4 separate regions of the Homo sapiens genome follow, and regions 1, 2 and 3 are each linked to region 4. The links come from fine-mapping of genetic effects on gene expression. A gene starts in region 4. Each other region holds a variant in brackets. All regions are shown on one strand. Distances are between the middles of the regions.

What was found. PIP is the estimated chance that this variant, and not a neighbour inherited with it, causes the effect.
Region 1: its variant is the best candidate, but not a certain one, in a credible set for the expression of SFXN4 in hypothalamus (GTEx, PIP 0.78).
Region 2: its variant is the best candidate, but not a certain one, in a credible set for the expression of SFXN4 in breast (GTEx, PIP 0.86).
Region 3: its variant is the best candidate, but not a certain one, in a credible set for the expression of SFXN4 in whole blood (TOPMed, PIP 0.82).

The regions. Positions count from the first base shown.
Region 1 is chr10:120,050,529-120,053,230 of GRCh38, reverse strand. No RefSeq gene overlaps it. Among named protein-coding and RNA genes, the nearest start is that of MIR4682, 93 kb to the right of the region's middle. The variant C/T (reference allele first, on the strand shown) is at 1,400.
Region 2 is chr10:119,291,867-119,294,568 of GRCh38, reverse strand. All of the region lies in intron 1 of GRK5 (G protein-coupled receptor kinase 5), which reads right to left. Among named protein-coding and RNA genes, the nearest start is that of GRK5-AS1, 46 kb to the left of the region's middle. The variant C/TGTATACCCC (reference allele first, on the strand shown) is at 1,124.
Region 3 is chr10:119,093,332-119,096,033 of GRCh38, reverse strand. No RefSeq gene overlaps it. Among named protein-coding and RNA genes, the nearest start is that of DENND10, 9.4 kb to the left of the region's middle. The variant G/C (reference allele first, on the strand shown) is at 1,396.
Region 4 is chr10:119,164,183-119,166,810 of GRCh38, reverse strand. It overlaps SFXN4 (sideroflexin 4), which reads left to right and starts at 1,097. Exons shown (of 14, transcript NM_213649.2): 1 at 1,097-1,274; 2 at 2,615-2,628. The coding sequence starts at 1,164. RefSeq lists silencers at 949-1,418, 1,460-1,646.

The sequences.
Region 1 (2,702 bases), 890 kb before region 4:
ATTGCCTCTGAGTGCTTCCGTTTCCTGATCCATAAAATAGCACCTAACCCACAAGGTTTTATGAGGACTAAAGAAGTCACATGCAGAGACTCTGGAATCCTGCCTGGCATAGAGCAGGTGCCATAAAGTAGTGCTACTTTGATTACTTCCACAATATGAGACTATCTATTCATTGTGAAACTTTGAACAGCCTGGAAGTTGATTTACTCAAATGCTAAGTGAAAAGAGTAAGTTATATAAGAGTGGGTGTGGAATGATGCCATTTATGTAAGAAAAAAATGTGTGAGCAGCTGAAGACAGCTGGACCAGGCCCCCAGAAAGGAAAGGGTGGAGAGAAGAGGAGGAAAAGGGTAAAAGCAAGAAAGGAAAGCAAACAGAACAGTCACACTTTGTTCTCCTCACTCCTGAATTGTTTAAATCTTCTGCACTATGAATGTAATCATGTCTCATTCATGGACTTAAAAAAATTAGGCAAAAAAATTACAAAAATGGATCCCCTGAAATCATACTGACCAGTGCTGCCCTACTGAAAGCTCCTGACCATTCGACCAACATCCCCAGGCTGAATGTTGCATGCTGGGCATCACCCTCACCCAGAGCCCCTCATCCTGAGCAGGACTGACACTGGGTGCTAAATAGTTCTTTGCTGTGGGGCTGTCCTGTGCATTGTAAGTCGTCCAGCAGCATCCAGGCCTCCATGCCACTACATGACAGTGGTACTCCTTGGAGTAGTCCAAGTTGTGACAACCAAAAATGTCTCCAGACATTGCCAAATGCCAAATGATTTTGCTCCGGGGGGGCAAAATCACCCTGGATGGGAACTAATGTTGACCCACTTTGAGAAAATGAACAAGTGATTGCCACCTATTTTTAGGGAGTGCCACCTATATGCCCCTCACTTCTGAGCAAAGCCCAGCATCAGCATGGCAGGAGCAGGCATTGAGAGTGCTAAGCTAGATCATCAGCTACATCTGCTGCTTCTTCCTTTCTTGGAGAGATGGGATCTCGTTATGTTGCCCAAACTGGATTCAAATTCCTGGGCTCAACAGGCACTCACCAGTACCCTGAATACACTGATCTTGTCTGCATTTCTTTTTTTTTTTTTTTTGAGACAGCATCTCACTCTGTGGTCCTGGCTGGAGTGCAATGGTACCACTCATAGCGCGCTGTAGCCTCAAACTTTTGGGCTCAAGCAACTCTCCCACCTCAGCCTTCCAAGTAGCTGGGACCACAGGCGCACACCGTCTGCTTATTCTTCACTATTGTAGACGGAACAACCTGAGGACCATTATCCACTTCCTCTTAGTAAACACTGTGTCTCCCCCAAGACTGTAAAAACCATTCCACAACATTTGATTTGCAAAACAACCCTTCCCCACACCTGCTCCTGCTGCTTCTC[C/T]CAGTCTCACAAGAAAATGTCATCTCTTTCCCTGGGGTCCCGGGCCATGATGATGACAGTTTACATTTATATTGTGTGTTCTGCCAGGAGAGGATGTGAAGAGCTAAACTACACAGGGGACTTTTGAGAAACTATTGGAAACCAGAGGCACTGAAGGATCACAGCTCTGGGAGTGGCTTGGGCAGCTGAAGAGGTTAAAACAAAGGACAAAAGTTTCTATCATTTGAAAAGCTAAAGCATTCCTTCTCCCCCAACCCCAACTCTCTGCTCCCTTCCCCTTCTCTCCCCTCCTTCCCTCTGCCTTTCCTCTTCCTCAAGCCTTCAAGCTGCCCAGCAGTGTCTCCTTCCAGCAGTTAGTTCTAGAGTGTACATTAATCAATGTTGCATAGTAATAAAGTCACAAAGTGGTTCGCAGTGGCTCACAGTGCAGTCAAGGTTAATTTCCCTGACCCAAATCCCCTGTCCTGGCCCTCTTCTAAACTCTATTTATGAAGTAAAGGGGGTTTTCGGGGAGCAGACAAAATAACCAGTGAACTTTTGGGACTATCTTCAATGTAGTGGACCAAATAAATAATTAACCCAAAAGTTAAATTCCTTTTTCTGTTTGAAATCTAAGCATGTTATAAGGAAAGCCAAAAGTGGGGTCTTTGAAAAGCTGAATGAAAAGGACTAACCCCTTCAAAACAATTCAAAAAATGGGGGAAAAAAGAAAGCAGGAAAGTAAGAAAAATTAGAAATGAGACTACAAATATGAGAGCAATTAAAATAGTTAATGAAAATAACTGGTTATTGCCAATAAATTTGAATACCAAGATGAAATTGATGGCTGTTAGTAAAATGAATTGCCAAAACAGACTCAGGAAGAGATAGAACTGAACAATCACGATAGAATTCTTGGGGAAAATATGTCAAACATCTACCACTACAGTAGGAACCAGGCCCAAATACTTTTGTCCATAAATTCTATCTGTCCTTAAAAGAATAGTTAATTCCTATGCTATTCAAATCATAACAGAAAATGAAAGAAGATGAAAATTTTTTCCAAAATATTTTGAGAAGTAGACATAACTTTGATTCAAAATATAATTTTTAAGTTAAAAAAGTTTATAGTCTTGCATTATTAATAATATAGATGAAAAACCTTACTCAATATATGAACAAAATGAATTTGAAAGTATATTTTTTGTTTTTGTTTTTTTAATATATATTTTGGTTTTCCATTCCTGAGTTACTTCATTTAGAATAATGGCCTCCAGCTCCATCCAAATTGCTGCAAAAGACATTATTTTTTCCTTTTTATGGC
Region 2 (2,702 bases), 130 kb before region 4:
CCTGATTCCTACTTATCTTGTGCCTGGGGTGAGTCTTGGCCCTTTCCTGAGAACAAGAGCATTTGGAGAGAAAAGCCCAGAGGTCCAGCTTGACAGGTGGCTGGCGGCAGGTTGGGTCAGGACAGTGCCTGCCTGGGAAATCTGCTTTTGGGATTCAACATTTCCCTGCAACCCAGCCCCTCACCCCAACTCCTAGGTCCTGGCAGAGGGCTGGGGGGACACGTCTAACCAACCGAGATGTGGTCCTCACCCGCAAGAGCACCTGCTGGGTTGGATCAGGCCTTGTGGACCCATTAAAAGTGGTTATAGTCTCACCTTACCAAGAAATTGAGACTAGGACAGGTTCTGAAATATGCTCGAGTGGCAGAGCAGAGATTTGAACTTGGGTCTGTGAAATGTTCTCATCACCACACATGCCTCTCACCCAGATCCAGGTACGCTTTCCTCCCTGCAGGAGGGGTCAGAGGCAAATACACATGCGTCTCCTCACACCATGAAAGTAAGTGGAGAAGCTGAGCCTCCCTCATTTCACAGCTCCTGGGTCTCTGTTTTTCCCCAACTCCACAAAGCAGAGGTGGGGGTGGAGGTTGAAAATGCTCAGCTCCCAGACCCCCGGGATTAGCAGGTGATTGTCAAGCATCTGAAAAGACACAGAGTGCTCTTGTCATTATTAGATCGTAATAGATTCATACTCACCCCCTCCATCTGAAGGCGTCTATTTCAGGTTTAACGTAACAATAGAGTATTGTTCCTACTCCAGACTCGGGTACCACCCCGAGGCGATGGCAGCACCCACCCAGCCCCACCCTGGCACTGACTGCTGCCTCGGGGCAGAGGCAGCACCACCCAGGCATCCAGGCCATCATCCACTCCCTCCTAGATTCCCAGCAAATCTCCTGGGCAGTGACGAGGAGGCCCAAGGTCTATCCGGAAGGAGGAATGTACAAAGAAGCCAATTTGCCTGATACTTGGTACCTGGCAATCCGCAGTCAACATAAACTATCCTCCCAATGCCCACGGCCAAAGGTCACCAGAGTGACAGACCCATGGCTGTGCACTGGGAGGTCAAAAGACAGACGAGGAACAACAATCACTTAATACACAGAGTGCTTGCTGTATACCC[C/TGTATACCCC]ATCTCTGCTCCTCAATTGTATTCAAGCTTTGCATTCAAGGTTTTACAACTATCCCATGGTAGAGCTTAGCATCTGTTAGCTAATGAAACAGACTGGGCGTCGCCAGAGAAAAGCACCCACTGGTCTCAAACTCCTGACCTCAAGTGATCCACCCACCTCAGCCTCCCAAAGTGCTGGAATCACAGGTGTGAGCCACGGCATCCAGCCACCTCAAGTCTCTTGTCTGTTAAATGGGAGATAAAAATATGTCCTCCACCTGTTTCACAAGAATGGGGTAAGATTCAAAGAGAGTAAGCCACTTCCTGGCTGCATAACCTTAAACAACAGCTTATACATAACTTCTTCAGGTCTTCGCTCTTTTATTTATAAGATGGGAAAATTCTTGTTCATACGGCTCCAGAATATGACAGGAGATGAAGCCACCAAATGCTGAGTGCAGTGCCTGGCCCAGAGCTTGAAGTTTCCCAGTATTCAATGATTAGAGGGTGCTTTGTAAAACATAAAGTCAACACGCAGTTGGCCTCCCATATCCACGGGCTCTGCATTTGTGGATTTAATCAACCATGGATTGAAAACATTCAGAAAAAAAAAAAAACTGTATCTGTACTGAATATGTATGGACTTTTTCTGTTGCCATTATTCCCTAAACAATACAGTATAGCAACTATTTACATAGCATTTACATTATATCTAGAGATGAGTTAAAATATACCAGAGGCTGTGTATAGGTTATATGCAAATATGACACCATTTTCTGTCAGGGACTTGTGCATCTGCAGATTTTGGTATCCTCAGGAGGTCCTGGAACCAATCCCTCACAGACACCTAGGAAAAACTATGATTGGAGAGCCTTGTCCCTCACCGCATCCCATCTAGCACACAGCAACCTTAAGTTTGTGTGCAATTTCAAATGTACTTAGGCCCTGAGGGTGAGAATTAGGTTTGGGGAGGTTTAGGGTATTGGGTTTTTTTAAATTATCTGAAAGACCCCAAAATAGCCACCTGCCCAAGGCAGCAACCCAGAAGCAATGAGCAGATGAACATGGGGGCTATCCCTGTGAAGCCGAGGCACCATGTGTTTGTGAAGGAAGAGGAAGAAAGGAGGATGAGGAGGAGAAGGAGGAATAGGAGGAGAAGGAGGAAGAGGAGGAGAAAGAGGAAGAGGAGGAGAAGGAGGAGGAAGAGGAAGAGGAGGGGAAGGAGGAATAGGAGGAGAAGGAGGAAGAGGAGGAGGAGGAATAGGAGAAGGAGGAAGAGGAGGAGGAGGAAGAGGAGGAGGAGGAAGAGGAGGAGGAAGAGGAGGAGAAGGAGGAAGATGAGGAGAGGGAGGAAGAGGAGAAGGAGGAAGAGGAGAAGGAGGAGGAAGAGGAGGAGAAGGAGGAAGAGGAGGAGGAGAAGGAGGAAGAGGAGGAGAAGAAGGAGGAAGAGGAGGAGAAGGAGGAAGAGGAGGAGAAGAAGGAGGAAGAGGAGGAGAAGGAGGAAGAGGAGGAGAAGGAGGAAAAAGAGGAGGAAAAGAAGGAGGAAGAAGAAGAGGAGGAGGAGGAAGAAGATGAGCAGAAGGAGGAGGAGGATGAGGAG
Region 3 (2,702 bases), 71 kb after region 4:
GCTTGAGCTTAGAAGTTCAAGACTTGCCTGGGAAACATGGGGAAACCCCCTCTCAACAAAAAATAACAAAATTAGCAAGGCATGGTGGCGCATTTCTGTGGTCTCAGCTACGCAGGAGGCTGAAGTGGGAGGATTGCTTGAGCCCAGGAAGTCGAGGAGGCTGCAGTGAGCCAAGATCATGCCACTGTACTCCAGCCTGGGCAACAAGAACCCTGTCTCAGAAAAAAAAAAAAAAAAGAGTAAAGAAAAAAAAGCACTACATGTAGTGTCTCATTTAAACCCCACCACACCCTTATTGTGGCTGTTTTGCAGATGGGAAAACAGAGGCTTACAGAGAGATTTCATGCCCAATGTCACGGAGCTAGTAAATGGCAAAGCTGGGGTTAAAAGCCACATCTGACTCCAAATATGGCATGTTTATGGGATGAAGTGAAATGTATTTATAATCCTATGTCTGTAGAAAATAAAATGCAAGGTGGGTGTGGTGGTGTGTGCCTGTGGTCCTGGCTACCTGGGGGACTGAGGCTGGAAGATCACTCGAACCCAGGAGTTCCAGGTTGTGGTGAGCTATGATCAGGCCAAGGCCACTGCATTCCAGCCAAGAAAACCCAGTAAGACCCTGTCTAAAAAAAAAAAAAAAAAAAAAACGCAAAAGAAATGTACCTTCTAAGGCGGGGCACAGGTGGCTCACACCTGTAATCCCAGCACTTTGGGAGGCCCAGGCAGGCGGATCATGAGGTCAAGAGATCGAGACCATCCTGGCCAACATTGTGAAACCCCGTCTCTACTAAAAATACAAAAAAAATTAGCTGGGCGTGGTGGCACGCGCCTGTAGTCACAGCTACTCGGGAGGCTGAGGCAGGAGAATCGCTTGAACCTGGGAGGTGGAGGTTGCAGTGAGCCGAGATCGCGCCACTGCACTCCAGCCTGGGTGACAGTGCGAGACTCTGTCTCAAAAAAAAAAAAAAAAGAAGAAGAAGAAGAAATGTACCTTCTAGTCCTAAAAACACCAATGTGAGTACAATAACATGTTTATAGTCCCAGTTTCCCTGTAGGAGGTTTTTGCTTGAGCAGTCTGAATTGTACAGTTAAACCTTAAACAATCTCCTTATCCTCCATTGAGCTGTATTTCTGTTTTCATTTCACATAAGGCAAAGTAACTTTAAAAATTTTAAACTGTTAGTGTTTCATTCTTGCTTCTGCAAGACTTAATGCTGGCCGGGTGCAGTGGCTCACACCTGGAATCCCAGCACTTTGGGAGGCTGAGGCTGGTGGATCACTTGAGGCAGGAGTTTGAGACCAGCCTGGCCAACATGGTGAAACCCCACCTGTACTATACAAAAATAAAAAAATTAGCCAGGCATGGTGCCGTGCGCCTGTAATCCCAGCTACTCG[G/C]GTGGCTGAGGCTTGAGAGACGCTTGAACTTCAGAGGTGGAGGTTGCAGTGAGGCAAGATTGTGCTACTGCACTTCAGCCTGGGCGACAGAGCAAAACTGTCTCAAAAAAGAAAAAGAGTTAATGCCAAGAGAATTGTTAAGGTCTCTGGGTTTGTATCAGTTTTCTATTGCTGTGTAACTAATCAAACTTAGAAGCTTAAAGAACACCCTTTTAGCCGGGCACAGTGGCTCATGCCTGTAATCCCAGCACTTTGGGAGGCCAAGAGGGGTGGATCACCTGAAGTCAGCAGTTCAAGACCAGCCTCGTCAACATGGTGAAACCCCATCTCTACTAAAAATACAAACAAAATAGCCAGGCATGGTGGTGGGCGCCTGCAGTCTCAGCTACTCAGGAGGCTGAGGCAGGAGAATCACTTGAATCTGGGAGGCAGAGGTTGCAGTGAGCCGAGATTGCACCATTGCACTCCAGCCTGGGCAACAATAACAAGACTCCATCTCAAAAAACAAACAAACAAACAAACAAACAAACAAACAAAACCCTTTCATTGGCTCACTGTAGGTTAGTTGTCCAGGAACAGTGTGACTGGATGCTCTGTTTAGTGTCTTGCCAGGCTGTGAATCCAGGCACTGACCAGGCCGCATTCCTCTCTGGAGGCTCTGGGGATGCGTTTGCTTCCAGGCTCATTGAGATTGTTGACAGAATAATTCCCTTGCAGGGGTAGGACTGAGGTCCCTGTTCTCTGGCTGGCTGTTGGCTGGAGGGCTTACCTCAGCCCTTGGAGGTGCCTGCAGTTTCTTGCCTTGGGGTTCCTTCTGTGTGCCTGCTCATGCTTTGAATCCCTTCCTTTGCTTCTGACCTCTCCACATGGATGGATTTAAAGGCTTACGTGATTGAGTAAGCCCCACCCAAATACTCTCCCCCTCAATCTTTTAAAAAAAATCAGAACACTCATTGCATGGCTAATTGTTGAAATTCTTTTTTAAATTTAATTTAATTTAATTTTTGCGGACAGGGTTTCACTCTGTTAGCCAGGCTAGAGTGCAGTGGCACATTCCTGGCTTGGCTCACTGCAGCCTCAATCTCCCTGGTTCGGGTGATCCTCCCACCTCATCCTCCCAAGTAGCTGGAACTACACGCACACACTACAACACCTGGCTAATTTTTTTGTATTTTTTGTAGAGATGAAGTTTCATCAAGTTGCCTGGGCTGGTCTCAAACTCCTGGACTCAAGCACTTTGCCGACCTTGGCCTCCCAAAGTGCTGGGATTACAGGCGTGAGCCACGGCGCCTGGCAACCTGTATACA
Region 4 (2,628 bases):
GGGCACCTTACTCAACTCGGAGGGTCAGGGAAGGCTTCCTGGAAGAGGAGATAAACCCCTGGAGGTTAAGAAAAGTGAGCTAGGCAAACTGAGCAAATACAGAAGCAGAGTCATACAGGCCTGAAGGACGCCATGAGCCAATTTCCTGTTCCTGGAGGCGCAGGGCAAGGGAAGGAATTGGCCCGCTGGAGGTTAATGGCCAATACTGAGCACTTCTGAGGGCTCAGTGCTGTGTTAGGGATGTTTTATCTCCTTTGATCAGAAACAAAACCCTGAGATAGGTACAATTGTTATCCTCATTTTGCGGATGGGAAAATAGACTTCGAGATACTGACTTGGCGAGGGTCACACAACTAGATGATGTGCTGGGTCCCCCAGTCCTGGACTCCGGAGGCCCCCTGAACGACCTAGGCACACTTGTGGCTTCCGTGAATTTAAGTGCACACAGCCCCCGCCTGGCCCTGTGCTGGGGAAGGGCAGGTGGGAGGAGGAAGGGAAGGCAGGTTTTTCTTTACAAATGGTACCTATTTGGTAGTCAACAAAAGGAACTGGATTTGCCCCAACACTGGAAGAAAAAAAAAAACAACCTGTTGGGCTGAGGGATAGTGCACTGTGCCCAGGGCCCTATACTTGGTTTGATGCTCTGGTGTTACTCTCTTGAAATTCTCAGTAACATGAATAAGGGGCACCGCATTTGACATTTTCCCTGGGCTGAGACCATGATGCAGCCGGCCTGACTGCGCAACACCATGCACACTGGAATTCGTGGGCCATCGGAGGGATTTTCGAGGGTAATGACCAGGGGTAGGGCGCGGCAGAAGCGCAGGGTGAGGTTGCGGACGGCCTCACTCACAACCTTTCCGGGTCTTCGCATTAGGTACTGTGATGACGGGTTCCGATAGTGACCCCTTGGGGCCTGGAGACGGCCCGGCTCCCCAAAGGTGCGGAGCAGGGCAAGCAGGGTTGGGAGGACGTGGCCCGTGGGAGAGCTGCGCTCGCCGGAACAGTGGGCGCGCAAGGGCCCCGAGGCGCTGTGACACGGGACGTCGGGCGCGCGGGCCTGGGGCGGGAACTGCGGGTGCGCGCGGCCCGGGGCGGGGCTCGCCGCCCGGCTCCTCCTCCACGCGCGGCCTGGCGGCGGCGGCCACTCTAACCAGCGCAAAATGTCCCTGGAACAGGAGGAGGAAACGCAACCTGGGCGGCTCCTAGGACGCAGAGACGCCGTCCCCGCCTTCATTGAGCCCAACGTGCGCTTCTGGATCACCGAGCGCCAAGTACGGCCCGGGCCCGGCGCGACTAGGGGCAGGGAGGGGGCGGGCCGGGCCGCGTGGAGTCGGGCTGACCCGGGTGACCTTGGCCAGGCCACGTGGGCGCCCCCTGTCTCCGTTTCCTCCTCTCGGAGTTGTGCCGGGAACGCGCACCACCGGCCTTCACCCCTTAGGGCGCGGCAGGGGACGCAGGGGAAATCGAAGCTGCCAGATGCCCACGACCACAACGTCACCCTCCAGATTGCCCTCTCGGAGGGGCCCAGTCCGCGCAGGTGGCTGCTCCCTACTGCCTGAGCTGTGGCTGAGCAGCAGATTGGGGAGAAACAGGCTCTCGCACCTTGGTAAGCTCAGCCACTTTCGGTGAGACCCCCGAGGCTTTGGGAAGCCACCCTTGGGCAGGACATAAGCAGGACTTATCTCCCTGCAGCGTCTAGGGCAGCACCGTCCAATAGAAATATGATGTGAGCCTTACAGGTAATTAAACATTTTCTAGTAGCCACATTAAACAAGATAAAAACAGCTGAAATTTTTAACAATACAGTACATTTAGCCTAGCAGGTGCAAAATATTAACATTTCAACATGTAATCAGTAAAAAACATTGCTGAGATATTTTACTCGCTTTTTTGGTACAGAGTGTTCCAAATCCGGCGTCTGTTACCTTCACAGCACATCTGGGTTCAGCCGCATGTGGCGAATTGGAGAGCAGGGCTTTAGGGGGTTCTCTTTGAGGCCTCTCCTAAAGTGGGGTCCAGCCCTGTTTTTTTTTTAGGTGGGGAAATTGAGAAGGGGCGGTGAGCTCAGGTTGCTCCAGCAGAGCCAAGGCTTAAAGCCAGAACCACTACAAAGTTTAGAGTTTGCTGGAGCAAACCTCTTTTTCCCCAGTGTGACCCCAGCTGCACCATTGAGCCCTTAATGGGGCGTCCATCCTTTGTCACTGGAGTGAAGCCTTATAGCAAGCAGAGAGTGAGGCCACAGACTCTTGAGATATTCTAGGCCATTGCTTCGAGGTCGTATGTGAGATATGAACGTAAGACCATTTGAACCCCCAAAGTCTGGGATTTTAACCCTCAAGGGCAATTTGATACTGAGAGGTTAAGGGCACAGACTTCTGAATCATTTCCTGGCTGTGTTGCCTTGAGTACATTCAGGAGTCCCTCTAAGCCTCAGCTTCCTCACCTGGAGAACCTGGAGAGGTTGGGAGGATCCCAGGAGATGATGCCAGTAAAAGGCAGATCACAGACCCTGGCAGGTTCTCAGAAAAAAAAAAAAAAAGCCAACTGTTAGTATTTATATCTTTATTTTTCTGCTGCCATTAACCTCTCTGTTGCTTTTCTCCCTCCTAAGTCCTTTATTCGACG